Linked DNA regions of Homo sapiens. The protein of the gene in region 3 purifies or fractionates together with the protein of the main gene of each other region. This does not show direct contact. Each region holds a gene or a part of one and is shown on either strand. Other genes may lie near its edges. The genes, in order: SECISBP2L, MEX3D, ZAR1L, GLCCI1, MIGA1, FAM83D and CUEDC1.

Region 1 (3,851 bases), on a different chromosome or scaffold from region 3:
ACAGTTTTGCACTCAGGACAAGTTTGGATACTCAATCAAATCCATATCTCAAATCAAGAGTCCTGAACCAGAAGCATGCAAGAGAACACACCAGTATAAGACTCTGTTTCTGAAGAGTTTACATGTAAGTGCAGCAGTCATACAATCGGTTACAGTTATTCACCTGTCAACATGTGCCTAGCTTTTTGTAAATAAGTCTATGTACAAGAGCATTCCTGAGGTAAGTAAGAAGCAAATATGAGACAGAACCTGGAGGTCCTATCATGGGTGACTGTTCACTATTATAGACAGCATCTATCACTTTCCACAAATGAGGCTAGCTAGCTATAATCTAAGATGGTGGCTCCACTGCTAGCCGAAGTTTTGAAGGCTCTGTTTTAGCCCATCCCAACACTAATTAATTACAATAATCAGTGACTTCTGACTAAACATTTGTGGACCACATAAAAGTTGCATTGATTTTTTAACATACAACACTGGTGGACTTAGTTACCCTCAGCCTTTCATTTAATTTTCTGACTCCACCCCCAGTTCTTTTTTAAAGAAGCCCAAACAATTTTTTGGTCAAATTAGAGTAGAGGAGGTGGAGTCCTGAAGCAAACACTGATAACTGCTTCTATCCTTAGAACCTTGTTCTTTAACTTTCAAAATGTCTTTTAAGTAAGCATTTGAAATTTATTTTCTTTAAGATCTGGTCTTCTTTTTATCACTGTTTTTGATTACAAAATAAGCTGAAACAGATCTGAATTTTCCACACAGTTCTTAGAAAGACACTTAGATACTAATTAAAAGCTAAGCTACAGATCATAACAAGTAAAAGCTACAAAAATATTTGTTGGGAATTAAATACGTATATTAAATACTGGACAGTGCAAAATGTTGAGATGAAGCATAAAAGGTAATGGCTGCAACCCTTCCACAGCTGGAGATAGAGAGCCGACATTTCCTGAGTTACGTAGTTTGCGTTGTGTAATTAGAATCAGAGTGCTCTTTGTTGAGCGAGCTGCAGTTGCTGGACTTCTGCTGCCCAGGACTGGCCTGCTGGTCAGCAGTCCATGCCTCACTGTCCATCCCTGGCTCCAGCACCTCAGGCGCCTCTGCTTCCTCTTCTCCACTTTGCTCTACATTGTCTTCCTCAGAACCATTAAGGGTTTTTCCAAGCTGAAGGGTTTCCATAGTTCTCTGGGTCTCTGAGACCCAAGACTCAATTCTACTATTGAGCTGCACTTCTACAGATATGGGTTCATGAGTATAATCTTCCTCCTCCTCCTCATCTTCATCTTCTTCTTCTTCAAGCATGCCAGGTACAAGAGTGCTGGTGGTGCTGGTGATGGAGGAATTCAAAAGATCTCGGCAACTGCCATCCAAAGAGCCAGTCTCTGTACTCTGCTGTGAGGCCCATTCCAGGTCATCTGGCTTCACTTCCTCTTTATCACTTGCTGTGGATTTCCCAGCACTTGTAGCTGAGGTAGTACTGCCTGTAGCCACTAATGATGGCTGCTTACCAATTGGGGGTGTGTCAAATGGAAGTTTACTGGGTTTTTCAGAAGTGCTGTGCTTACAGGATACCTCTTTCTCATTTTCTGATGCTTCCAGTCCATCTGAAGTTTCCACCATGTTTCTCCAATTTGTTTCTACAAGTATCAAGCAGATTTTTTAAAAACCAGAACACTGTTTCAAAATCATGCAACTCTTTAAAAACCCCCAAAAAAGAAAGAACAACAAAATATATAAATTTGTTGGCTTAGAAACTGACTGGAAAAACTACAAATTTAGTTTATTTAGTACTAGTTTGAGACAGAGAGAGAGTGTGTGTGTGTGTGTGTGTGTGTGTGTGTGTGTGTGTGTGTTTCAGATGGGGTCTTGCTCTTTTAGGCTGGAATGCAGCAACATGATCTTGGCTCACTGCAGCCTTGACCTCCTGGGCTCAATCTATCCTCCTATCTTGGGCTCCCAAAATGCTGGGATTACAGGTGTGAGCCACTGTGCCCAACCTAATTTAAATGTTATAAAGGGAAAATAATTCCCAAAAATGTACATTCAAGATAAAGAAACAGGGAGGTAAAAATAAGTATATTAACGCTTCAGAATGCAAGAGATCTTATACCAATAGGAGCTCACTGGCATTCACAAATAAAATCCATATATTCATGAAAATCAATAAACTGCCTAACTTTTTGGTAGCCTAGAGGTGTAATGGGCTCAAGGACCCACAACCCAAGAGATAGAAGAGCCAAGATGTCCAGCAATAATAGTTCTGATTCATGTGTTTGTACCATGCTCACTCAGCAAGTTATTTAAATTATCTTTTGGCCTGTAATGGGACATGTGTTTCCAATTATAAGCAAAGAATCCATCCATGCATTTCTAACATCTGTGAAAGGTTGTTTTATAATATATATATATATATAGCTTGGCTTACAAAGTGATTTTGGAGGACAAAAAAAGTATTATATACTACAGTGATGACAAACTAAATTATTTCTCATGATAGGAAATCAGTTGAAGGCAAAAAAAGTACCAAGAATCAGTAAAGATCTCTCACCCCTGTATTTTTTCAAATTTTTTTAAAAAATAAAAATTCTATCATATTGACATTACAGCTACTATTTGCAGTTTATAGGTATAATATTCTTATCAAGTTGTAGCAAACCTATTCACATTAGTATGTTCAATATGGTCACCATCTATGGCCTATATATTGATATAGAACATGTTTTGGGCACTTCAAGTCAGGATACATTGTTTGGGAAAAAATTTCTTTCCTGAAGCTACTTTAGTGTAGAATGAGTCCTTTCCACTGTCATTTCTACCTTATGAAAAAAAAAAAATCACCTCCTCCTATATTCTCATTCTCAGCTAATGACATTATCATTTACACAATCTCAAAGCAGAAGACACCTTATAGTAACACTTGATCCTACTTTTCTCTCTTATTAGTATTATATCCCTTTAGTCCACTGAATTCATCACTATACCATGACACCTGTAGCTCAAAAACTACTAAATCTGTTTACTACTCCCTTAGCTCAGGCCTTCTTTTTCTTGCTGTTCATTTGTAACATCTTCGTAACCGGTTTTGTGAACTGATTATATCATTGTCTAACTGGCTTTTTATCACCCTAGGATAGAATCCAAAATCCCTGGCGTGGCACAGCAAAGCCCTTCATGATCTGGCCCTTATCTATCATTCTGGTCCTACTGCCTTCTGACCCTGCGCCATAGGCCACACACTCCATGCTCAGTGTCATCTAAATTCTCACTGTTCCCTAAAGTTGGAACATCAGCTGTACTCTTTCTGCAGATGTGTTTTCCTCCTTTCCCCTTCAGACTCCTATTCATCTTGATAACCACTCTTAAATGTTAGTTCCTTCATGAAGTTTTTCCTAACTCCTGACAGGCAATCGCTAACCTGAACTCCCACAGTACTTTTTACATATACAGTCAAAAGCCTTGTTTTGTGTTTGCTGTTTCACCTTCCTCATCCCTCCTCACTTCCACTCCAGCTCATCTCTGTGTCCCTATGACTGGTATATAGTAAGTGCTGGGGAAAAAAAAAAAAAAAAACAGTCTAGTAAGTGAAAATTTTCCCACATATATTTAATTATGAAAAAAAATTTTAAAGGCACAAAATGTTTAAAAATTTTAGATGCACATTAACATTTCAACAGTTTTTTTTTCTAAGGAGAAATCCAAGACCCCGAGATTAACTGATTACACCTAAAACCTTTAGGCAGAGTATAGAAAAACCAAGGCTTCAATCTTTGAACACTTTGAATCTGGTGCTTTCTGAAAACATCACCTCAATCTCTGAGACTTTCGTTTTATACTACTTGTGTTTATATGTGCCC
Region 2 (4,197 bases), on a different chromosome or scaffold from region 3:
AAAGGGTGTCACCTGTCGCCCAGGCTGGAGTGCAGTCACAGCTCACTGCAGCCTTGACCTCCTGGGCTCAAGCCATCCTCTCACCTCAGCCTCCCGAGTAGCTGGGACTACAGTTATGCACCACCACCCCCGGCTAATTGTTTAAAGCTTTTCTGCAGAGACAGGGTCTTATTATGTTGCCCAGGCTGGTCTGGAACTCTTGGGCTCAGGTGATCCTCCCATCTCAGCCTCCCAAAGTGCTAGGATTACAGGTGTGAGCCACCATATCCGGCCTCTACAAAAAATTTTTAAAAATTAGCCAGGTGTGGCCGGGCACGGTGGCTCACACCTGTAATCCCAGCACTTTGGGAGGCCAAAATGGGTGGATCACGAGGTCAGGAGATCAAGACCATCCTAGCTAACACGGTGAAACCCCGTCTCTACTAAAAATACAAAAAATTAGCCGGGTGTGGTGGTGGGCGCCTGTAGTCCCAGCTACTTGGGAGGCTGAGGCAGAAGAATGGCGTGAACCTGGGAGATGGAGGTTGCAGTGAGCTGAGATCGCGCCACTGCACTCTAGCCTGGGCGACAGAGTGAGACTCCGTCTCAAAAAAAAAAAAAAATTAGCCAGGTGTGGACCGGGCACAGTGGATCACGAGGTCAGGAGTTCGAGACCAGACTGACCAACATGGTGAAACCCCATCTCCACTAAAAATACAAAAATTAGCCGGGCGTGGTGGCGGGCGCCTGTAATCCCAGTTACTCGGGAGGCTGAGGCAGGAGAATCGCTTGAACCCGGGAGGCAGAGCTTGCAGTGAGCCGAGATTGCACCACTGCACTCCAGCCTGGGCGACAGAGTGAGACTCCGCCTCAAAAGAAAAGAAAAGAAAAGAAAATTAGCTGGGTGTGTTGGTGCGCACCTGTGGTCCCAGCTACTTGGGAGGCAGAGGTGGGAGGATCGTCTGAGCCCAGGAGGTTGAGGCTGCAGTGAGCTACAATCACACCACTGCACTCAGGACAGAGCAACAGAACCAGACCCTGTCTCAAAAACAACAAAACAAAACAACAACAACAAGAAACCGCTAGGCGTGGTGACTCACACCTGTAATCCCAGCACTTTGGGAGGTGGAGGCAGGCGGATGACCTGAGGTCAGGAGTTCGAGACCGGCCTGGCCAACATGGCGAAACCCCGTCTCTACTAAAAATACAAAAATGAGCCTGGCGTGGTGGTGGCAGATACCTGTAATCCCAGCTACTCGGGAGGCTGAGGTGAAAGAACTGCTTGAACCTGGGAGGTGGAGGCTGCAGTGAGCCGAGACTGAGCCACTGTACTCCAGCCTGGGCGACAAGAGCAAGACCCTGTCTCAAAATGAAAAGAAAAAAACCTCTCGGGGAATGAAGGGAACATGTACACTGTACTAACGCCAGAACTCTCAGTTGGGTCTGCAGTGTGGAGGTTTCCTAGCAGAGCCTTTCTTCCTAGGGCTCTGCAGTGTATGGACAGGAAAACCATGGCATGGTCCCCACCAACACCCCAGCACTGTCCCCAGCTGTCGGGAAAACCTGGGGCCTGCGGGGATGGGAGGAGAAGAGGAGCCTCTGGGGCTGCAGCCAGGAACAAGGGACAGGAGGGGAGACAGTGAGCCAGGGGTCGCCCCCAGCTGAGGGGAACAACCTAAAATCACTAGCCTTAGCCTGTGCCGACAGCAGAGAGAGCGAGCCCTGAGCAGCTTCCAGTCCAGGCCCTGCCTTCAACATCACTCACTCATTCATTCATTCATTAGCCACAGAACACCTTCTGTGTACAGGCCCTGGCAAGACACTGAAGACCCAACCATGACCAAGCACCTGCCCTGGTTCCTGTCCCTGGGAACATGCAGGGGGAGAGGCTGCCACGGAGCACAGATTCACCCAGGGTGCCTGGCAAGCGGGGTGAGAAAGGAGGGTACATGTTGGGGTCTCAGCAGGAGCAGGGCCGGAGGTCCCCTAGAGCACCTTTGCTGGCCGGCTGGAGGGAGACGCCTGTGCTTTTGGGTCTCCACTTTGCCTGTCTCCCAGACAGGGCTGCCTCCCCTCACCCCCAGCCCTCAAGCTTTGGAATCTGAAATTTTCTTTGCTGACCCACCAGAGAAACTGGGTTTGAATCCCAGCCCATGATTTTTGTTTTGTTTTGGAGACAGGGTCTTGCTTTGTTGCCTAGACTGGAGAGCGGTGACAAGATCATAGCTCACTGCAGCCTCGACCGCCCAGGCTCAAGTAATCCTCCTGCCTCAGCCTCCAGAGTAGCTGGGGCTGCAGGAGTGTGCCACCATGCCTAATTTTTGTATTTTTTTTTTTGTAGAGACAGGGTTTCGCCATGTTGGCCGGGCTGGTCTCGATTCCTAGGCTCGAGGGATCCTCCTGCCTCAGCCTCTCTGAGTGCTGCTATCCCCTCAGTTTTTACCTATTCTTTACCTCTTGCAGCCTCTGCCTCCCCATCTGTGACCTGGGAGCTGCAGGACCTTTCCTGGGGCACATTATGGGCCTCAGTGAGATGGGGCAGGTCAAGTCTGGCATAGGCTTAGCACACAGTAGACCCTCAATAAAGATCTAGCCAATGGCCAGGCGCAGTGGCTCACACCTGTAGTCCCAGCACTCTGGGAGGCTGAGGTGGGTGGATCACCTGAGGTCAGGAGTGTGAGACCAGCCTGGCCAACATGGCGAAACCCCGTCTCTACTGAAAATACAAAAACCAGCTGGGCATAGTGGCACGTGCCTGTAATCCCACATACTAGGGGGGCTGAGGCAGGAGGATCGCTTGAACCTGGGAGGTGGAGCTTGCAGTGAACCGGGATCGTGCCATTGCACTCCAGCCTGGGCAACAGAGCGAGACTCCATCCCAAAAAAAAAAAAAAAAAAAGATATAGCAAATGAATGAACTGGAGCCTCCAGCAGATGGGTGGGAACTCAGAGGGTTTGAATGACCACAGTCTGCCCAGAAAGCACTCGGACCCCCTCTAGGATCAAGAGAACTGAAGCTCAGAGAACAGCACGTAGCTACTGGGGAGAGGGCTGGTGCCAGGCCTGTGTGACTCTTGTCTAGGTGGGGAGGCCGGACAGGTGCACCCTTCCTGGCCTCCAGGGAAGGGGTAACCTTGGAGCTTGGGTTTGACAGAGAAGCATGAGAAGTTCAGAGAGCCCCAGGGTGGAGAGGAAGGTGAGTAAAGGGGCAGGGCCGGGGCACAAAGGACATTGAAAGGTATGCTTGAGAACGGGGTGGGTGGGAGAAGCTGGGAGCCACAGATGGTTCTACAGTGTGGAAGAAGTACAGACTACCGAAGCTGTGGAAGACGTAAGGACTACTGAAGCTGCCAACCTGTCCTGGCATCCACAGTTGCATCCCTGGCAACGCGCACTCCACTTATGGGGTGGCCACTGTGTGTGACCTGGAGCTGGGATTAAAACCAGCAACTTGGGTCCAGGCATAGTGGCTCACACCTGTAGGAACCCCAGCACTTTGGGTGGCTGAGGATCGCTTGAGGCCAGGAGTTCAAGACCAGCCTGAGCAACAGAGCAAGACCCTGTCTCTACAAGAAAAACTTTATAATAAAAACAAATAAATAAAACTGGCCGTGCGCAGTGGCTCACGCCTGTAATCTCAGCACTTTGGGAGGTGGAGGTGGGCGGATCACTTGAGGTCGGGAGTTCGAGACCAGCCTGGACAACATGGTGAAACCCCGTCTCTACTAAAAATACAAAAATCAGCTGAGCGTGGTGGCTCACACTTGTAATCCCAGCTACTCAGGAGGCTGAGGCAGGAGAACTGCTTGAAACCAGAAGGCGGAGTTTGCAGTGAGCCCAGATCACGTCACTGCACTCCAGCCTGGGCGACAGAGCGAAACTCCGTCTCATAAATAAATAAATAAAACCAGCATCTTGCCCCAGAATCCTCTACCCTAATGGAGGTGAGACGTCCGCACATCACAGAGAGGGGCCGTCATCTGCGCAGGGCCACGGCGGCCTGCAGGACAAGCAATCAGGGCCCACTCTACCCCCGACCCCCACTGTACCCCAGGGCCTGCCTTGCTGACGGCCACCAGCAAGAGCCCAGTAAGTGGGTGCAGAACGCACAGGCCAGAGGTGGGGGCTGAGCCTGGTGCCCACAGACTCCATTTCCCATGGACCTGCCCCTAGAGAATTCCCACCCTGAGGCCACAGGTCTAGAAGCTCTCAGCCTGA
Region 3 (4,651 bases):
GGCACTGTGCTCCCATAACCCTGGTACAAGCCATAGGGAACACGGACAAAGCGCTCCATCCGCTCTCAGGTGCTCAGGCGCAGTCTAATATCCTAGCCAGTTTGTTTGGGTCCTTATTTTGCCTTCCTCCTTCATCCGCCCCTTCTTTCTCTTCATCAGGTTGGTTCAGATTCATTCCTGGCTTCTCCATTTATTTCAGATTCTAATGGGAGCTGCTGCTTATTACCCTGATTGAGGGAGAGAAGCTCTATCTACAGATGTCTAATTGCCACCTGATTCCTACCTAATTGCTTTTCCCTACCTCTTCACTGTTCGGGAATCTTTTTTTCAAAGCTGTTTTTCATTTCCAGCTTATTCACACATATGCTTTAATTAGTGATTAATTCATATATTCCTGTAGTGACCATTCTAAAGATCCTTTGTAAGGTAATGTGGTAATGTTAGATAATGTTTTAAGGTACAGCCATTATGGACAACAGTATGAAGGTTCCTTAAAAAAGTTAATAGAAGTACCAGATAATCCAGTAATCCCACCACTGCGTATTTACCCAAAGGAAATGAAATCAATATCCTGAAGAGATACCTTCACTTCCTTGTTCGTTGTAGCATTATGCACAATAGCCAAGTTATGGAAACAATCTAAGTGTCTGTTAACAGAAAAATGGATAGAGAAATTGTGGCATGTATTTATACAATGGAATATTATTCAGCCTTAAAACAGGAGATCCTGGCCAGGCGCGGTGGCTCACACCTGTAATCCCAGCAGTTTGGGAGGCCGAGGCAGGCAGATGACCTAAGGTCAGGAGTTCGAGACCAACCTGGCCAACATGATGAAACCCTGCCTCTAATAAAAATACAAAAATCAGCCGGGTATGGTGGCACGCTCCTGTAATCCCAGCTACTCGGGAGGCTGAGGCTGGAGAATCACCTGAACCCGGGAGGCAAAGGTTGCAGTGAGCTGAGATCACACTACTGCACTCCAGTCTGGGCAACAGAGAGAGAAAGACTCCGTCTCAAACAAACAAACAAACAAAAAACAGGAGATCCTGCCATTTGCAACAACATGGGTGAAACTGGGGAACATTATGCTAAGTGAAATAAGCCAGATAGAAAAATACTGCATAAACTCACTGATATGTGGAATCTGAAAAAGTCAAATACATAGAAGCAGAAAGTAGAATGGTGGTTACCAGGGACAGGAAGTTGGGGGGAATGGAGAGAGACTGGTCAGAGCCTAAAATGTTACAGTTAGGTAGAATGAATGAGTCTAGAGATCTAATTTACAGCATAACGACTACAGTTAACAATACTGTATTTTATACTGAAAAGTTTCAAAGAGAAATTTCAGGTGCTCTCACCGCACACAAAAGAAAGGTAATTATGTGAACAGATGGATATGTTAATTGCTTGACTATAGTAATCATCTCACTGTGTACATATACATGTTGTGCACATTAAATATATACAACTTTTAGGAAATAATGGTTTTTTGGGTTTTTGTTTGTTTGCTTGTTTGAAATGGAGTTTCCTTGCTCTGTCTCCCAGGCAGGAGTGCAGTGGCATGATTTCGGCTCACTGCAACTTCCGCCTCTGGGGTTCAAGTGATTCTCCCACCTCAGCCTCCCAAGTAGCTGGGATTACAGGCACATGCCACCACACCCAGTTAATTTTTGTATTTTTAGTAGAGACAGGGTTTTGCCATGTTGGCCAGGCTGGTCTCGAACTCCTGACCTCAGGTGATCTGCCCACCTTGGCCTCCCAAAGTGCTGTGATTACAGGCGTGAGCCACCATGCCCAGCTGGAAATAATGTTTTTAAGAAAAATTAAAGCATATTGTAAATTGAATACAAATAGTAAATTGAGCAGCTGCACTAGAAGAGAATAGGTGAGAAAGTCTATTATGGTGGAGCTAATAAGTTGCAAGTCCCTGGTACAAAGAGAACAAGAAACATAAAGGTATGGGGGGCTGTATAAAATGACAGAAAATGTTATTTCTGAGACTTGTGTGACATGCCACGGGTTCTCATTAGTCCACTCCTAGTGAGACACCCCTCCCCCACAAAAAGGGGACAAAGCATATTGTTCTGATTTATAGGGTAAATAAATCACAGGTTAGTTAAGTGTATGAAGTCAAATGGACTAGAATTCAAACCTGGGCCTTACTACCAGGCACATTACTTAACTACTTGATTCAGTATCCTCATCTGACAATACTGACCAATTTACAGGATTACTGTAAGATTAAACATGGTATTGCTTGAAAACCCAAAGCAGAATGCCTAACTCATAAAATGTTTGGTAAGTGGCAGCTGTTATTAGTAAGGATCACAGACGTATTTCTTTGCGAATTAGACTTAGAGCAAAAGCTTTAGAATCTATCTGCATTAGTAAGGCCTCCTTCTACAACTAAGGATTACTGATTATCAAACTAAAATGGTCCCTAAGGAACCAAGCGGAGCCCACCCTTTTCCTAATCCAAGGTTGCTTCTGTTTACTGCTCAAGCACCTTCTGGAAGCAGCAAGGCCCCCATGGGAGCAACTCTCACTGAATCCATTTGAAGGTTTTGTAGGTCTTACAACAAACCCTATTCAGCCTTGTATTAGGCATGTTACAGAACCAACGAATTCGGAGATGAAGTCAGGTCTTCCAGTTCAGCCTGCGAGGAAGACAGGTGATCCGAATCCTAAGAATGCAAAAGATGGGCCGGGTGTGGTGGCTCATGCCTGTAATCCCAGCGCTTTGGGAGGCCGAGGCAGGCAGATCACCTGAGGTCGGGAGGTTGAGACCAGACTGACCAACAACGGAGAAACCCCGTCTCTACTTAAAAATGCAAAGTTAGCCGTGCGTGGTGGCCCATGCCTGTATTCCCAGCTACTCGGGAGGCTGAGGCAGGAGAACCACTTGATCCCTGGAGGCGGAAGTTGCGGTGAGCGGAGATTGCGCCATTGCACACCAGCCCGGGCCACAAGAGCGAAACTCCGTCTCAAAAAAAAAAGCAAAAGATACTACCAAGCCCTGCGGAGCAAGGTACCTCACACTTCATGAGCGAGTTAAGATGGGTTTCACAATTTTTCAAGCAAGGAAACGGGCTCGGAGGTCTTGAACACCTGCTACCCAATAGCAGAACAGCTACTGGAACTAAAATCCTCTGATTTCAAATAACAGCCCCGCCCACTACCACTAAGTGAAGTCATCCACAACCACACACCGACCACTCTAAGCTTTTGTAAGATCGGCTCGCTTTGGGGAACAGGTCTTGAGAGAACATCCCTTTTAAGGTCAGAACAAAGGTATTTCATAGGTCCCAGGTCGTGTCCCGAGGGCGCCCACCCAAACATGAGCTGGAGCAAAAAGAAAGGGATGGGGGACTTGGAGTAGGCATAGGGGCGGCCCCTCCAAGCAGGGTGGCCTGGGACTCTTAAGGGTCAGCGAGAAGAGAACACACACTCCAGCTCCCGCTTTATTCGGTCAGATACTGACGGTTGGGATGCCTGACAAGGAATTTCCTTTCGCCACACTGAGAAATACCCGCAGCGGCCCACCCAGGCCTGACTTCCGGGTGGTGCGTGTGCTGCGTGTCGCGTCACGGCGTCACGTGGCCAGCGCGGGCTTGTGGCGCGAGCTTCTGAAACTAGGCGGCAGAGGCGGAGCCGCTGTGGCACTGCTGCGCCTCTGCTGCGCCTCGGGTGTCTTTTGCGGCGGTGGGTCGCCGCCGGGAGAAGCGTGAGGGGACAGATTTGTGACCGGCGCGGTTTTTGTCAGCTTACTCCGGCCAAAAAAGAACTGCACCTCTGGAGCGGGTTAGTGGTGGTGGTAGTGGGTTGGGACGAGCGCGTCTTCCGCAGTCCCAGTCCAGCGTGGCGGGGGAGCGCCTCACGCCCCGGGTCGCTGCCGCGGCTTCTTGCCCTTTTGTCTCTGCCAACCCCCACCCATGCCTGAGAGAAAGGTCCTTGCCCGAAGGCAGATTTTCGCCAAGCAAATTCGAGCCCCGCCCCTTCCCTGGGTCTCCATTTCCCGCCTCCGGCCCGGCCTTTGGGCTCCGCCTTCAGCTCAAGACTTAACTTCCCTCCCAGCTGTCCCAGATGACGCCATCTGAAATTTCTTGGAAACACGATCACTTTAACGGAATATTGCTGTTTTGGGGAAGTGTTTTACAGCTGCTGGGCACGCTGTATTTGCCTTACTTAAGCCCCTGGTAATTGCTGTATTCCGAAGACATGCTGATGGGAATTACCAGGCGGCGTTGGTCTCTAACTGGAGCCCTCTGTCCCCACTAGCCACGCGTCACTGGTTAGCGTGATTGAAACTAAATCGTATGAAAATCCTCTTCTCTAGTCGCACTAGCCACGTTTCGAGTGCTTAATGTGGCTAGTGGCACCGGTTTGGACAGCACAGCTGTAAAATGTTCCCATCCTCACAGTAAGCTGTTACCGTTCCAGGAGATGGGACTGAATTAGAATTCAAACAAATTTTCCAGCGCTTCTGAGTTTTACCTCAGTCACATAATAAGGAATGCATCCCTGTGTAAGTGCATTTTGGTCTTCTGTTTTGCAGACTTATTTACCAAGCATTGGAGGAATATCGTAGGTAAAAATGCCTATTGGATCCAAAGAGAGGCCAACATTTTTTGAAATTTTTAAGACACGCTGC
Region 4 (3,590 bases), on a different chromosome or scaffold from region 3:
AGCTAGATGCGACCTTACACTGTGGGATGGAGGATGAGGGATGGGGGTAACCCCTCAGTTTGCAATATTCATAAATAAACTTCAAGTGATTATTTTTGGTTAGCATAGGGTTACAACACGCAAGTTCTTAGGACTAATATTCCCCTCCTTGTTCCTGAGGTCTGATTTTGCAAATACTGTATTAACTTCTCAGGGCTGTTTATATTACTTATTATATGATCGAGTCAAGAAGAGATGGGGCTAGGAATTCCACTTTCCTTCACATGAATTCACTTGCAATGGAAATTTAAAGTTGTATAAAGTAGAAAATTTCCTGCCTAAATAACATTAACACAGCTGATACATCCCACCATTTAAAAAGTTACGTTTTATTTTTCTCAGCCAAAACCACAGCTACTGGTCACTTCTAAGTTCAATTTAAAGATCAAATCTTATCCCTTTGAGATGCGCTTTGGAAGTGAACAACAGTCTGCTGATAAATTATTTCTCAGAGCGTTTTGTTCTTGCTTTCACGCTACCATATGGCCTACCAGACCATATCCATGTCTGGATAACTGGGCATGATGTCAACCCTCCTTTGTTTTGTAAAGCTTTTCTCCACCTTATTCTGAATCTAAACAAATAAAAAAGTAAAAAATTAAATTTTATTGCTGCAGCTTTGCTTGCAAGAAATATGCAACTTCCTCTGAAATGATTTCATTGAATTTAAACTCATTTCTATAAATTCTGAGGTATAAAGTGATGTGAGAACAATGTTTTCTCTATTTAATGTGATCATACCTGGGAACAGTACCAAGACTTGGAACTTAAGACCTCTAGCTTCTCACCTTGTGATGGAGAGTGTGTAAGTTAAATGCCAAGAGGAAGCCAGGTTGTAGAAATCTGATCCAGTTAGACACCCCACACCTCCAGACATGCAGGCCAGGAACTCAATGAGTACAGAAAACTACCATTAACCTGAGCTGAATTTCTCTCTGTCGGGTAACGAGCCAACAACCCCAGTCTTTCCAAAAACATGTGTGAACTATTTCAGTTTTACTAATAACTTTATTTAAATAAGACACAGGAACTTCTATACTGAAAAAATACAAAACAAAAGCCACACATTTCCTTGTGTAAAGCCATATTATATGGTAACTCAAATACTGTTCAGCGCAATGGCTAGAATTAAACAGTACAATTATATACAAAATTTAAACAATTTCTGACAAATTTCTACAGCTGGATGTAGGATACATTTGAGCTCAACAACTTCTGGGAAATTTACATGGCAAAGCGTAAGCTTTAACACATTTGGTTCAAAACTTTAATATATGCTAAGAACAAATGTACAACACAATTAATATTTAGTATCTCATGAGAAAATAAAAGCACATCACTATAAATATCGTACATGAGATTTCATCACCAAAAAAGCATATTCAGTCCATTTTTCTGAAATTGATATTGATACTATTGCATTTTATTTGGACAAAAGCAGAGTGTAAGATCAACATATTATGTAATGCTAAACCAGACATCAGAAGTCAAATGGAGCTCATATTTATCTTACGGAACTAGTAATTTTCCCCCTTTAACCATAATCTACAAAATATAGTATTTTCATCAAGGCCTGAGATTATTAGGGTTAAAGGTATCTGCTGCTGAAAAGATTGTTTTAAAAGGTTCCCCTGTGAAAATGACGAAAGTAAACTGAGTCCTTTTTTCCATGACAGTCTCCTACAATATAACACTGACTAATTTAAAGGAGCCAGAATGCACCTTCAGGAGAAAATATTACGACAAACTTTGGTGGAAAGAAGAGAATTGAGATCATGACAAAATAATGCACAGAATACACACACACACACACACACACACACACACAAACATATACATATATATATCATTTCTTAAAAAAAAAAATCAATGGTGTTGCTTTCTTCTCTATCACTCATCCTTCTTCAACCTTCTTAGAAAATAAAAGAAAAACCCAGGAATGAATGAAAGGAACTGAAACGTTCCTTTAACTGTAGGCACCTGGTTCCCCTAATTCTTAAGAAAATTGTGCCATACACTTTAGGCGCAGATGAAACAACTCTAGGTTTTATTGAACTGAAAGTAGTGGAATACAAAAACTTAGCTTTTGGATACTCTTTGTACTGAAGAAAACAATGAAAGTTAGGCTCTCCCATTGACCAATCAGGAATGCCTGGGGCTCTCTTCACACTTTGTGGAGAACTTGTGTCAAAAGTCTGCAAGTTCAAGGCTATTTTCTTGAGTTTATGCTCTACCTCACAGGTTGCAAATTTCAAAACTACTCATGATTATGCATTATGAGAGGCTTAAATGAGATAGCTTCAAACTATTGCTCTTGTAAGTCACCAAAAAAACCTGCTTATGTTGCATCAATTCTGAGACCCAAGTATTCTATGTAAATGAAGATCATGCACCTAAACTGCTTGAGGAAGACAATAACAAAAAGTATGTCACTTTTTCACCTGCAAAATAAAGAATTTCCAAGGGAGAAACTAAATATAAATATGTCTTTAGATAAAATGGTAACAGTTATGACCCTGATGGCTAACATAAACAAAAAAATCTCAACCATTCCGTCAAACACTTCACTTATTTTGAAATTAACTCTAGACATTCTTGTCTTTAAATTTCATCACACACAATGTGGAATGTTTATGTACAGTCCAGTACTGAACACTTTATTTGCAACATTGTCACAGTCCTTTACTGAGCAACACCTGAACTTTTAAAAAAGCCACATGTACACATGTTGAAACAGTGAATGCAACAGTTGTTTTACTTGTAACCACATGACAAAGTGATGTCAAACACCACAGATTTTGCTGGTTCTCCTCATGTTCACCCATGTCCAGGATTATCATTCTCCTAGGATTGAATGCACTTCTTATTCTAAGAATGTGGAATGTAATGAGGAAAGGGAAATGCATAAAATAAGGAAAGGCAAAAGAGTGATGTTCCCTCTTTAGCTTTTTAGCTGTGAAATATTTAATATCCCAATATGATATACATTCCAAGTTACCTGAGTTTAGACTTCAACTGAAGTACCTGAAGCTAGGCCATAGGGTGGGCACTGTGCAACTGTTGTGGCCATTTTTTTTTTTTTTTTTTTGCATTGTATGTATTACAGAAGTTAGAAACAAACACCTGGATCAATTGTAAACATAATCCTGAATTACAGTATTTTCCATAGGACAAAACACAGCAAGACATTTTCTATTTAGACAGGCAACTTTTTGATATAGAGCTTATTTATACTGAAGAATCTGGAACAAAACACAGGACACAGTACTAATCTGTCAAATATACTATGAAATGCATAGTCTCCACTTAAAATGCTGAATGACACACACGTTTTGCAAGCATTACTGCTTTCCACAAAAACTGCTGAATAGGAGTTCCGTCCCTGCCAAGATCAGTGTTTAAGAGATACTTTATGATGCTGATAAGTATTATTGGTGGTGGTGGTGTTCAGAAAGTTTGTCACTCATGCAGATGTCTGAAATCTTGTTCCGAATCCATGGAACATAGGGTGGAGGCCAGCTCCCCCTTTTTTAGATGATCACATAGTTCTG
Region 5 (4,197 bases), on a different chromosome or scaffold from region 3:
CTCTGTCTCAGAAGCAAAAAAAAAAAAAAAGAGTGAGTTTACAAGCAGCTGAAAGGCCTTCTAGGCAGAGAAAACAGTGGATACAACAAATACATGAAGACTTAATTTTTCCTTTTCTAGTGTTCCCTTATTCAGGAAATGAAATCAGTATCCATTTACTTCTGCAGGCCAGCAACCTGAGACTCATCCTTCACCTCTCCCTGATGCTCACCCATTTTATCATATTCATCTCTAATTTTGTCAGTTTTAACTCCTAAATATCTTTCAGTTTCTTCGACTTTTCTCTCTTTCTGTCACCCCTCTTGGCCTAAGTGCCTGTTGTCTTTTCTCTGGGCTACATCAGTAGTCTTTATATTTCCCGATTCCCTGCTCACTCCTTTCCTCCCTGCATTCATTCTTTCCCCTGTTTCATTCTCCACATTTCTGCCAAAATGATACAGCACACTATACTTTTTCCTTTATTGTGCTTCACACAGTTCATAATTGGATATTTGCAGGATTATTTTGTTGCTGTTTTCCCCACTATACTCTAGGCGTCTAATTTGCTTACTCTAGAAGTTTGAGCACTTGGTACAGCATGTAGTATGTAGAGTGTGTATGTATGAATGAATGAAAGAGCAAGATGTTCATGATCTGGTGGGGAAGACAGGCACATATACCAGTAACTAAATAACAAGGCAGAATGAGCATCCTGGATGTTATAATAGAAGCGTGAACAAAGGACTCCTAGAATAGAGAGGAGGAGAGATTATTTTCACTTGAGATCTAGGAAGGAGCAGCGATAATGTGAATTCGTAATTTCTAGTGGCGAGCTTTCATATTTATCTCTCCTTTTATTTTTTATTTTTGAATAAGCTGATTAAAAAAAACCCCTGCTGTTATAAAACCATAAAGCCCTGGCTCAGATTTTATTTCAGCTCTATGTAATAATAATTTCTGTTTCAACTCATAATTTAATGCAGGTGAAAAATCTAAATTTTTATGATGTTGTTCTGGATTTTATATTAATGGACTCCTTTGAAGATTTGGAAAACCCACCCACATCCATACAGAATGTAGTAAATAATCGATGGCTAAACTCATCCTTCAAAGAAACAGTAAGTGGTGGTTAACCTTTCTCAGCCTTTTAAGTTTGATTAAAAAGTGAGGCTGGGCGCAGTAGCTCACGCCTGTAATCCCAGCACTTTGGGAGGCCAAGGCAGGCGGATCACCTGAGGTCAGGAGTTTGAGACCAGCCTGGCCAACATGGTGAAACCCCATCTCTACTAAAAATACAAAAAAAAAAAAAATTAGCTGGGCATGGTAGCGGGCACCTGTAATCCCAGCTACTCGGGAGGCTGAGGCAGGAGAATTGCTTGAACCTGGGAGGTGCAGTGAGCTGAGATTGAGCCATTGCATTCCAGCCTGGGCAACAAAAGCAAAACTCCGTCTCATAAACAAACAAACAAACAAAAAAGTGGTTGGCCAGGCGCGGTTGCTCACACCTGTAATCTCAGCACTTTGGGAGGCTGAGGCAAGTGGATCATTTGAGGTCAGGAGTTCGAGACCAGCCTGGCCAACATGGTGAAAGGCTGTCTCTTTTAAAAATACAAAAATTAGCTGGGTATGGTGGTGGGCACCTGTAATCCCAGCTACTCGGGAGGCTGAGGTGTAATAATCGCTTGAACCCAGGAGGCAGAGGTTGCAGTAAGCCGAGATCGTGCCGCTGCACTCCAGCCTGGACAACAAGAGTGCAACTCTATCTCAAAAAAATGTCAAAACTGGGTAGATTGTTAAGATTTACATATACATCTGTCTGTGAAATAATGTATGGAAACTGAGCTCATCCTTTGATATTCAGCTCAGGCATATACGGCATAACATCTTCAGATGAAATTCTCTTTTCAGCTTCTGTTCTTTTCTGTTCTCAAACCTGTTTGACATTGGTTTTTGTTGGGCTTTAAGTGTGCACCTGGAAGCAAAGTAGGGTGGATATATTTTATGATGCAGTTTGGATACCTTTAAAAAAATGTTCCAGTTGGCAATTTCACAATTATTTTGGAACTTACTGATATTAAACTTAAAAGCATTTTAAATAAATTCATTTTGCCTCAATTAAGTATGTTTTAATAATAAAAGGTACATGTTCTCCATTTCTGTAACTGATTTGGTAAAGTGACCTTGATCAAAGCTGGGTCATGCCAGAGTGGGGTCAGATTTTTCTTTCTTTTTTTTTTTTTTCCTTCCTGGAATCACCTCCAAGGGTCAGATTTCTTCAGGATCCACTGGGTGCTTTTGTCCTGTCATGGTTGTATTTCCTAGTTCTTTATTTGGATCAAACTGTTAGCTCTATTCACAAATATTCCAATAGTACTATTCTTGAAAAAAAATTACTTTAGGCCAGGTACAGTGACTCATGCCTGTAATCCCAGCACTTTGGAAGGCCGAAGCAGGCCGATTACTTGAGCTCAGGAGTTTGAGACCAGCCTGGGCAACATAGTGACACCTCGTCTCTATAAAAAAAATACAAAAATTTGCCAGGTGCAGTGGTGTGTGCCTGTGGTTTCAGTTACTCAGGAGGCTGAGGTGGGAGGTTCACTTGAGCCTTGGAGGCGGAGGTTGCAGTGAACCGAGATCACTCCTTTGCACTTCAGCCTAGGCAATGGGAGTGAAACCCTGTCTCAAAAAAAAAGAAGAAGAAAAATTACTTTATTATTACACATAGAATATTTATTTGTGTATGTGAATTCTATATACACATATTTTCACTTTTTTCCCTTAAGGAACAGAACTTTAAAACTCTGAAAATTGAATCTCCTTTGTTCCAGAGTGCAGTCTTTTTCCTTTAGTGGCTTTGTGTTTAATTTTTTAAATATTATTTTACTTTTTTTTTTTTGCCCTTGCAACATACAACTTTGCTCATGATTTAAAAATTTATAAAAATGAAATACCTTTTCATTAATATTTTCAAACAATGTGAGGACCCTGACTAGTTTTGTTTTTTGTTTGTTTGTTTGTTTTGAGACAAAGTCTTGCTCTGTCGCTAGGCTGGAGTGCAGTGGCGCGATCTCTGTTTACTATAACCTCCGCCTCCCGGGTTCAAGCAATTCTCCTGCCTCAGCCTCCCGAGTATCTGGGTCTACAGGCATGCGCCACCATGCCCAGCTAATTTTGTTTTGCATTTTTAGTAGAGATGGGGTTTCACCGTCTTGGCCAGGATGGTCTCCATCTCTTGACCTCATGATCCACCCGCCTCGGCTTCCCAAAGTGCTGGGATTACAGATGTGAGCCACTGTGCCCGGCCGACTAGTTCTTATTAGTAATGAATGTATTGAACGTTTTAGACCCATAAACTTTGAATTTCTAATAAAAATGGAAATGTTTATATAGCTATATATAAATCTTTCTTTTCTCTGCATGTATTTAGGCTGTGGCTTCAAGTTGTTGGTCGGTGCTGAAACAGAAAAGACAACAGATGAAGGTAAAATTCGTTATGTCCTGAATTCCTTTGTTAAATCATTTAAGGATTCTGTCAAAGCAGCTTCTGAGTCACTTCTCCGGTGGGAATTGGCAGCTGTAGGAGGGGTAGGAGGGACTGTCCCTCAGGCTAGATGAGTGACTTACTGGTAGTGGGTTGGCTTCTTTTTTGAAGGCCTTCTTTCTCATCCTTAGTATTGAGGCATGCATGGTATTTCAGCTAACTGGGAGAGGGGTTTCGAGTTGGAAACAGCTCTGATAAGTTTTAGGTTTTTGTTTTTTCTCTTAATGATATTAATTTTTTTTTTTTTTTTTTGAGACAGTCTGTCTCTGTTGTCCAGGCTGGAGTGTGGTGGCGCGATCCTGGCTCACTGCAATCTTTGCTTCCCGGGTTCAAGCGATTCTTCTGCCTCAGCTTCCCAAGTAGCTGGGACCGTAGGTGCCACCACACCCGGCTAATTTTTTTATTTTTAGTAGAGATGGGGTTTCACCATGTTGGCCAGGCTGGTCTCAAACTCCTGACCTCAGGTTATCCGCCCGCCTTGGCCTCCCAAAGTGCTGGGATTACAGGTGTAAGCCACTGCACCTGGCCAGTATTTTTTTACAGTTCTTTAATATAGTGGATTCCCTTCGTTTAATCCAATTAAGAAATAAAGATTTGATTCTAATAGCTGCTTTATTCAGTTTGGAGCCCCTACAAATAAAAAGTCTCAGAGTTTATATCCTGCCTTCACGCCTCAC
Region 6 (4,197 bases), on a different chromosome or scaffold from region 3:
GATCAGTTGAGGTCAGGAGTTTGAGACCAGCCTGACCAACATGGTGAAACCCTGTCTCTATTAAAAATACAAAAAATTAGTCGGGTGTGGTGGTGGGCACCTGTAATCCCAGCTACTCAGGAGGCTGAGGCAGAAGAATCGCTTGAACCCGGGAGGCAGAAGTTGCAGTGAGCTGAGATCGTGCCACTGCACTCCAGCCTGGGCAACAAGAGCAAAATTCCATCTCAAAAAAACACAACAACAACAAAAAAACAAATTCTGTAATAAATATGACAATTTTTCTTTCTTCTTTCCATGAAAGTGACCAAGCTAGCTATGTTGTATAGGCTTCCACTGAAACACTTAGGTCATTTTCAGAATCAGAGAAATAGACATAAAATCTAATTTTACAATAATGAGAAATGAACAGCAGCAGCATGTAATAGTGATTACAGACACTGGGGTTGGAGGCAGACATACAAGGAGGCAGACCCTAGGCCCACTACTTTGAAGTGGTGGACACTTGGATTCTCTGTGTCACTATTTCCTGGTCTAAAACACAGGTGCCACTTACCTGATAGGGGCTGCTTTGAGGATTCAGTTACATAACATTTGTTAAAAGCACAGAGCAGGCTGGGCATGGGGCCTCATGCCTGTAATCCCAGCACTTTGGGAGGCCGAGGCAGGCAGATCATCTGAGGTAGGAGTTCAAGACCAGCCTGGACAACATGGCAAAACCCCATCTGTACTAAAAATACAAAAATTAGCCAGGTGTGGTGGTACGCACCTGTAATCCCAGCTAACTGGGAGGCTGAGGCAGGATAATCTCTTGAACCTGGGAGAGGGATGTTGCAGTGAGCCTAGATTGGGCCACTGTACTCCAGCCTGGGCAACAGAGTGAGACTCTATCTCAGGAAAAAAAAAAAAAAAGCATGGAGCAGTGCCAAAGACAGAGTGGGGGCTCAAAAAATACTGGTTGCTGTGATTAAAAGGGCAGCCTCCTGGAGCTACTGTCAAAAGCAGCAACTTCCAGGGTGGCCTTCAGGCCTTCAACAAGGGAGCTGGTCCAGGCTCTATTAAGAGGCAGGACAGTACAGGGGAGAGGCCAAGGTCTTGAATCCTAACATTTCTTTTAAAGAGCTTAACTGAGATCTAATTCACAGATCATACAATTAACACAAATTCTGTAGTTTTTAGTATATCCACAGATATATGCAACCATCATCACCGTTAGTCAATTTTAGGACATTCTCATCAGTTTAAAAAGAAAGTGCTAAAATAAAGTACCCTTTAGCAATAATCCCGTCCTTCCCCCAACTCCCCAGCCCTAGGCAACCACTAATCAATGTCTCTATAGATTTCCCTATTCTGACTTAATGGAATCATATCATATGTGGTCTTTTGTGACCGGTTTCCTTCACTTAGCACGTTTGCAGGTTCATCCATGCTGTAGCATGTATCAGCACTTCATTCCTTTTTATAGGTGAATAGTATGCTATTGTATGAATAGACAACATATCATTTATCCACTTATCAGTTGATTGGCATTGGATTGTTTCCACTCTTTGGCTTTATGAATAATGCTTCTATAAAACTCACACATAAATTTTTGTGGGGGCCCATATTTTCATTTCTCTTGGGTAGACACCTAGGAGAATTGCCAGGTCACAGGTACTGTTTGTTTTCTGTAAGACCAGGCAAATGACTTTGCTCACAGCCTCAGTCCCTTCCTTGTAAACAGGGATACCGCCACCAGCCAGCTTGTAGATAATGGATGCTTGGTCATATTTGTTGACTATGGTGAAACTGGATATAGTGTACCACAAACCTTTTCCTGTTCAGGATGAACTTTCAGATCCATGCACATATCCAGAAATTGAGAGAGGAGAGCCTGGTCCAGAAGGATATACACAGCAACTCCCTGTTTCCTGCATATTTCTTGCAGGTCTCTGAAGATGTCGATGTCTGTGAACACGTCCATGACCACTGCAATCACCTACAGGTGAAACAGGGAAGAGCACATGATAAGCTTATAGGACACCACCTTACAGCACGCTCTCTGGACTCTGGACTCCACTCAGAACTGGGAAATGATCCCTATCCAACAGTTATCCTTCCCTCCCCCTTCTGCAGTGTTGGTGCCCCCCTCACCATGGACTCTTTTGCATCTCCAAAGACACTTGGGCCCCGTGTCCTAGAAATCTTGACTTGGCCTAGCTAACACTCCCAACTCCATGCTGGGAGGTTTCTCAAAAATACAGATCAATCCACTGCCTTGCTCTCTTATGAACCTGCTCCATTCACCTTCTATTCCTCCACTAAACTCCTGTCTTACAGGCTTATTCAGATCAGCAAGCTGTCTGGTTCTGTGGGTAACACACTGTCATCTTTGGCTTGTTGCTTTCCCCACCAGGCTTCAGTTTGCTGTCCGTTAAACAAGTAAATAAAACCTCAGATTCTCTCTGAGGGCCCTTCTGGAGGGTAGCATTCTCGAAATCTATTTTTTAAATTATTGTCTGGTTTTGAATCATAATCTCTGACTTTTTTAAGGCCTGTCCCATTCACCACCAACTCATGACTCGAAAGCAATCGAAGCAGGCCCATGGATTCTCCCTTCTTCTGCCTCCCTAACACTGCATACCATATTTGTTAACATTCTGTTCTTTCTACCAGCCAGGCCTGATCAGCTGTCTGTTGGGCAGGTTCTAACCAAATGACTTCCACTGCACTGGCCTCTCCTCAGTAAAAGGTTCTCTCTGCAGTTCTTTGGTATCCGTCCATAGTGCAAGCCCACAGCAAAGAACAGGGAAATATTTCCTAAGGATTCTGCCCTTAAGCTCAGAACAGGCCTTTCTTCTCCCCAACAACATGGCTCCATTCATGCCTCCCAAGTGATTTTCCACACCTAGCATCAGACTACAATTAAGAGCTACCTTTTAGCCATGCATTCCTGGGCAAATTACAGCTGTTTCAAATGTCTGTTTCCTTAGCTGCAAAATAGGGTTGTATCGAGAACTAAATGACTATGTTACATAAAGTGCAAGGTACAAAGGATCCCTTAGTATCTGCTCGTTTATTCACTTTACCAGTCCAGAGCTGGAGCCGTCCAGACAGTTCAACACAGGGAGACACCGCCTAGCTTTCCTCGCTCTTTTAAAGACAGGCTGCTCCTGCCACAATGCCTCTAATCACACCTTTTGCAGGCTTAAAACCAAGGTCCTCAGCAAACTCCTGGCAGGGCAGTGGGGGTGTCCAAACCTCCAGGCTTAGAAACAGGTCCTGACAAACTGAGTCAGAAGTTGGGGGTGTTAACTAAGGAAGCCGAGGCTTGGGGGCTCTTCTGTAGTCTGGAGATATAAGGGTTTCTCCTTCCTCCCCATTTCCACAGTAAAAGCCTGTCTCTCAGAATCACATTAACTCTTTTTCTGAAAGTTAGGATTATTCATTTATGGGTTTCACTCCTTCTCCTGCAGCAAAGGCTCTTGAATGGGATTGAGTCATTTCTGTGGTCCCAGAGGACTTAGGACAGTATATGACAGTCATGACTCCTTAAGGATTTGGGGGATTAAAGAAGGAATGAAGAGGCAAAAAGGCAATTTGGCTGTCTTTCTCCAACACTCCAGGGCCTGGTCTACTAGGATGTGAGACCCTGAAACACCAGTTCCTGGGAAGTCATTGCTGTGAGGGGGTTGAGAAGACCAGTTACTCTCCTGCTGCCTTTCCCACCCCACCCCTTTTAATGATGGTCTAAGCTGTGGGCTATTCTTGGTAAAGGGCATGGCTGAAACCCACTGAACACAGTGATTTAAAAAATGAGAAGCGTTCTTTCTGAATTTGTGGCATCCTCTGAAGTTTACATCCTCCACTGGCTTTACACATCCTATTTTGACAGTTCTATTCATCCCACTCATTCGGGTCATACAACAGGAATTAAAGGCAAAAGTTCTGGGCATAGAACCCAGCTCTACCACCTACCAGCTGTGTGACCCTGGGCAAGTGGCTTAATCTCTCTGAGCCTCAGTTTCCTCCTCAGGAAGACAAAATTAATAGCATCTGGGTCAAAGGGCTGCTGTGAGGATTAAGTGAAACAAAGCATGGAAAGGGCTTAGCACAGGGAGGGCAAGGCAGGAAACAGGTGCTATTATGCAGCCAGCACCTCCTCAGAGCACGCTGTGGGCTGCACACTGCACTAGGCAGAAAGATGGCTATGAGGAATTT
Region 7 (4,197 bases), on a different chromosome or scaffold from region 3:
CCGCTTCCCTCCCCAGCTTTTCTGAGACAGGCCCTGTGGCCTCCCAGGAGTGAGGGAGCCCCTCAGCACATGTAATGCAGCTGACTCTTGGTGAACCAGTGACATTTTCATCGCAGGCTGGCTCCCTCAGCCTTCCTGCCTCACTTCCCTCTACAGCTGAGTCTAGATACAAATTAAGTTTTAAATCCTCTTGAGCCAGATGTCTGCAGAAAAATAACGTGCCACACATGCCCTCACCGCAATCCTCATGTTCACGTTCTCTGTGGCTCGAGGAGGCTTGGCCGGAGCTGACTGCACAGAGAGGCCCTTGCTAAGCCTCTGTGGGGGTGGGGGACCTCTTTCCACAAAGTCCTACCAGCCTTGAATGCCCCCTTCCCTCCCCCTCACCTCCCCGCCACACAGACCCACAGCCATGTGTGAATGAGGCTGCGATCCTTTCAGGCTCCATTTCAAGGAAAATCTCGGATTAGTCATGGAAATCCCAGAACCAACTTTGGAGGTGGCTAGGGGAGGGGCGGGAAGGCGGTGGCGGCGGGAAAGCGAGCCAAGATGCGTTGCAGTGTGTTGCAGCTGGGGAGGGAATACTTGGATCTTGAGCCGCCTGCGGTCCCTGGGCCTGGCTCAGGGTGTCCTGTGCTGCCCCTGCAGGCTGACCCAGGATGTAGCCTCTTGCTCCTGGGGTGGCGTCCTCAGGGGTCTGCGATTCCTGTCATCTCTCCCTCCTCAGCTCCCACCCTTGCCTGCCCCCTGCTCCCTCTCCGGGGGGCCTTGGTCCTCCCCTGGCCTTTCCCACACCTGGGAGGAGGCCATCTGGTGTGCTGGCTGCTGAGAGAATGACTCACAGGTCTCTCTGCCCCCAGCCACCCGGAGGAAACTGTTTGAACTTGCCCGAGCCTTCTCAGAGAAGACCAAAATGAGGAAGTCAAAGAGGAAACACTTGTTGAAGCATCAGTCGTATCCTTTCCAGCCTGGCACTGGTGGGGGTGGTGGAAGCCAAGGGCCATGGAGCAAGACCCCTGTTGGACTCCCTGCAGCTGTGCCCTCCCCTGGGAGTGGAACCCGGCTCTGTGGCCTTCCCTTCCTCCTCCCCTCTCCTCCATGAGCTTGGCCACCAGTCCACTGCCCGTCTCTCGTTGCCAACCAGGGACCAGGCCTAGGGAGCAGGGCAGCAGCTCCTGTCTCCCTTCTGTAGGCCCAGAAGTTGTCCTATTAACTTTTTTTTTGGTCTGAGGTTATGTACTTCTTGGGAGAAAAAGTGGTTCTTCCATCAATATCAAACCTTCCCTTCATTTCTCTAGTTGAACTGGTGCACGAGTCCTCCTCACTCCAAGCATGTTGGCCCTCCCTTCCTCGAGTAGAAATACGGCTTTCCACCTTTTTATCAGAACTCCTATTCATGCTTCTCAAACAGGGCCTAGGATAGCAGAGGCTCAGCAGCCAGAGGGAAACAGGGAGGAAGCTGTTTCTCCATCCCCAGAGATGTAAGCTGGGCGAGAGTGTCAGGGCCTGGCCATACCACTGACCTCAGGAAAATGAGCCTGGGGGACAGTACTAAGGGTGTGGGGGGTCAGGTGGGTGTGTCAGGTACCTCCAGAGCTTTGAGGGGTGGGGCAGAGAGTCAGTGGGACTGGGAGGACTAGGGCAGTGTCCCCTCATCCCTGGGACGGTTTTCCTGAATGGCCTGGCAGGCTGGGGGCTGCCGCGTCAACAGCCAACCTCCTGGATGATGTGGAGGGCCACGCGTGTGGTGAGGCTGGAGGGGAGTCGTAAGCTCCAACTTCTCTATGATCGGTGATCTCCCAGCGGAGTTCCTGGGTGTTTCATGGGAGCACCCGCCCTGTCCCCTGGAGGAACACACTGAGGGTTGGTGGGCAGGTGACCCAAAGATATGGATCCCCCTGACTTGGTCGACATTGCTTCCCCCTTTCTGCAACCCCTGAAAAGGGGCCCTAGCCCTACTTCCACCTAGATGTGTACCTGTAGCATGAAGTGCCAGGTACTGTTTCTGGGGAATATTCTTTTGGGTGTGAGGTGGCAGACAGGCCTGCCCCCATGGGGGACCCTCGGCCTGAGAACCAAGCACTGGGCAGCTTCAGTCTGTGGGCCCAGAGGCTTCTCAACTTTCACCCAGTCCCTTCCAAAGGCCACGTGGGCCAGAAGACTCTGCCTCAGACCCTCCTGGGCCCGCAGCTGAACCCTGATCCTCATGCCACATTCGAGGGTCAGGAGGCATCCAGAAACAAGGACTGGAAGGGCCTCAGAGGTCATCTAGATAGTCCAGCTTTTCCATCCCATTTTATAGATGAGGAAATTTGAGGCCCAAAGACGAGGGGAGAACTTGTCCAAGGTCTCAGAGCTCAGTGGTGGACCCTGGCCAGCACCTGAGTGTCCTGCTGCCTCTCTCCCTGGACCCATGCATCGTCTACCTGGGGGGATCTGCATGGGTCCCAAATGAAGGGGGCAGAGAGAGTCGGGTCAGCTCTCTTGCCCAGTCTAGGGGCCGTGCCTGAGCGAGGCCCTGCAGGGTAGAGGATGAGGCAGCTTCCCTCTCCTTTTCAGATGAAGACTTCCGGGGCAGGCGTCAGGAGGCACCCAAGGTGGAGGAAGGCCTGCGAGAAGGACAGTAAGAGGTAAGGCCTGGAGCCATAGCAACCCAGGGACTGCCCAAGGCCAGGGCCCCCCACACTATGCACCCCACATGTCCTCCCAGGTGTCCAGAGGCGCTGGGCTCAGGCAACTGGGTAGCACAGGCCCCACGTGTCTTCCCTCATAGTTGCGGCAGGGACACGGGCGTGGGAACTAGTTCATTGCATGTCTTTTTTGGTTATTTATTCATTTGACAAAAGATGAGCACACCTGCCTATGACAGATGCTGAGAACAGGAAAACAAAATCAGCTTTGACCTTGAAGAGTTTACAGTCCAGTTGAGAAGACAGTCCAGGACACACGTAGCACACTGAGAGGATGATTTAAGAAAAACTGGCTGGGCACGGTGTCCCATGCCTGTAATCCCAGCACTTTGGGAGGCCAAGGTGGGTGGATCAGCTGAGGTCAGGAGTTCGAGACCAGCCTGGCCAACATGGTGAAACCCTGTCTCTGCTAAAAATACAAAAATTAGCCTGGCGTGGTGGCAAGCGCCTGTAATCCCAGCTACTTGGGAGGCTGAGGCAGGAGAATCACTTGAATCTGGGAGGCGGAGGTGGCAGTGAGCTGAGATCGCGCCATTGCACACCAGCCTGGGCGACAAGAGTGAAACTTCATCTCAAAAAAAAAAAAAAAAGAAAAAGAAAAACTGAGGTGGTCTCAACCCGGCTGTGCACACACACAACTCTCTCCAGCCCCCTGCTTGGGTTGGGTGGGCTGGGATCTGCCACACCAGGATGAGGAAACCCTCCTGAGGCAGCGGTTTCTGGCTGAAGCCCCAGGGCTCCAAGCCATTTCTCCTCCTCGCTTCCTGTGCACCCTCTTGGGGAGAAAAAGAAAATACCAAGGCCTCCTCCAGGAGTTGGCCAAGACAGCTGTCCCTTTTCCAGCCCCCGTTTACCATGGGAGAGGGGAAGCTGCCCGGCCTTCCCCAGCCACTTGTTTGGTCCCAGTGGGCAGCATCTACAAGGCTTTCTTGAGTTGATGGTGTGGCAGGTATGGCCCTGTGTCAGACGATGGAGAAATACTCACTTGCCTCAGGATAGTCACAATGGAGGGAAACCGGGAACAAGTAAATACAAGTGCCCTCTCCTCTCTGCCTGGGCAGCTGGCCCCCACACCCACTCCACCTGACTCCCTACCACATCTCCCACCAGGCACTGCAGCCCCTTCTATTCCCCTCAGGCTTTCCTCAAACACAAAGCCGCGGCCCACTTCCCACTGTCCTGGAATGCCCAGATAGAGCCTGCCGGGGAATCGCCTCCACTGTCACCCCACGCTGCTACTATCTCCACGCCCTTCTCCTTCCTACTGGTCCCCAGGGAGAACGGGTCCTGTCCAAACCACCCCTACATCAGAAACTTGCTCATCATTCATTCATTCATTCATTCATTCATTCATTTTGAGACAGAGTCTCGCTCTGTTGCCCAGGCTGGAGTGCAGTGGCACAATCTTGGCTCATTGCAACCTTCACCTCTCAGGTTCAAGCGATTCTCCTGCCTCAGCCTCCCGAGTAGCTGGGATTATAGGCACCCACTATCTTGCCTGGCTAAT

Evidence for each region.
Region 1: the proteins of ZAR1L (region 3) and SECISBP2L purify together in Homo sapiens (co-immunoprecipitation; 2 studies listed by BioGRID and IntAct, with this or other methods). This does not show direct contact.
Region 2: the proteins of ZAR1L (region 3) and MEX3D purify together in Homo sapiens (co-immunoprecipitation; one large-scale study listed by IntAct). This does not show direct contact.
Region 4: the proteins of ZAR1L (region 3) and GLCCI1 purify together in Homo sapiens (affinity purification with mass spectrometry; one large-scale study listed by BioGRID and IntAct). This does not show direct contact.
Region 5: the proteins of ZAR1L (region 3) and MIGA1 purify together in Homo sapiens (affinity purification with mass spectrometry; one large-scale study listed by BioGRID and IntAct). This does not show direct contact.
Region 6: the proteins of ZAR1L (region 3) and FAM83D purify together in Homo sapiens (co-immunoprecipitation; 2 studies listed by BioGRID and IntAct, with this or other methods). This does not show direct contact.
Region 7: the proteins of ZAR1L (region 3) and CUEDC1 purify together in Homo sapiens (co-immunoprecipitation; one large-scale study listed by IntAct). This does not show direct contact.

Annotation. Positions count from the first base shown.
Region 1 is NC_000015.10:48,991,293-48,995,143, forward strand, and holds part of SECISBP2L (selenocysteine insertion sequence-binding protein 2-like), read right to left. Parts: intron 1,635-3,851; coding exon 952-1,634; 3' UTR 1-951. UniProt on the Homo sapiens protein: Binds SECIS (Sec insertion sequence) elements present on selenocysteine (Sec) protein mRNAs, but does not promote Sec incorporation into selenoproteins in vitro.
Region 2 is NC_000019.10:1,561,674-1,565,870, forward strand, and holds part of MEX3D (RNA-binding protein MEX3D), read right to left. Parts: intron 1-4,197.
Region 3 is NC_000013.11:32,311,867-32,316,517, forward strand, and holds the start of ZAR1L (protein ZAR1-like), read right to left. Parts: upstream 3,498-4,651; 5' UTR 3,449-3,497; intron 3,280-3,448; exon of another isoform or gene 3,211-3,279; intron 2,685-3,210; 5' UTR 2,464-2,684; intron 228-2,463; 5' UTR 60-227; coding exon 1-59. Other genes in the region: BRCA2 (breast cancer type 2 susceptibility protein), read left to right, coding at 4,595-4,651. UniProt on the Homo sapiens protein: mRNA-binding protein required for maternal mRNA storage, translation and degradation during oocyte maturation.
Region 4 is NC_000007.14:8,086,518-8,090,107, reverse strand, and holds the end of GLCCI1 (glucocorticoid-induced transcript 1 protein), read right to left. Parts: coding exon 3,570-3,590; 3' UTR 1,028-3,569; downstream 1-1,027.
Region 5 is NC_000001.11:77,862,932-77,867,128, forward strand, and holds part of MIGA1 (mitoguardin 1), read left to right. Parts: intron 1-962; coding exon 963-1,097; intron 1,098-3,406; coding exon 3,407-3,460; intron 3,461-4,197. UniProt on the Homo sapiens protein: Regulator of mitochondrial fusion: acts by forming homo- and heterodimers at the mitochondrial outer membrane and facilitating the formation of PLD6/MitoPLD dimers. May act by regulating phospholipid metabolism via PLD6/MitoPLD.
Region 6 is NC_000020.11:38,939,737-38,943,933, reverse strand, and holds part of FAM83D (protein FAM83D), read right to left. Parts: intron 1,976-4,197; coding exon 1,808-1,975; intron 1-1,807.
Region 7 is NC_000017.11:57,864,907-57,869,103, reverse strand, and holds part of CUEDC1 (CUE domain-containing protein 1), read left to right. Parts: intron 1-860; coding exon 861-954; intron 955-1,411; exon of another isoform or gene 1,412-1,481; intron 1,482-1,688; coding exon 1,689-1,747; exon of another isoform or gene 1,748-1,766; intron 1,767-2,559; coding exon 2,560-2,627; 3' UTR 2,628-2,630; intron 2,631-4,197.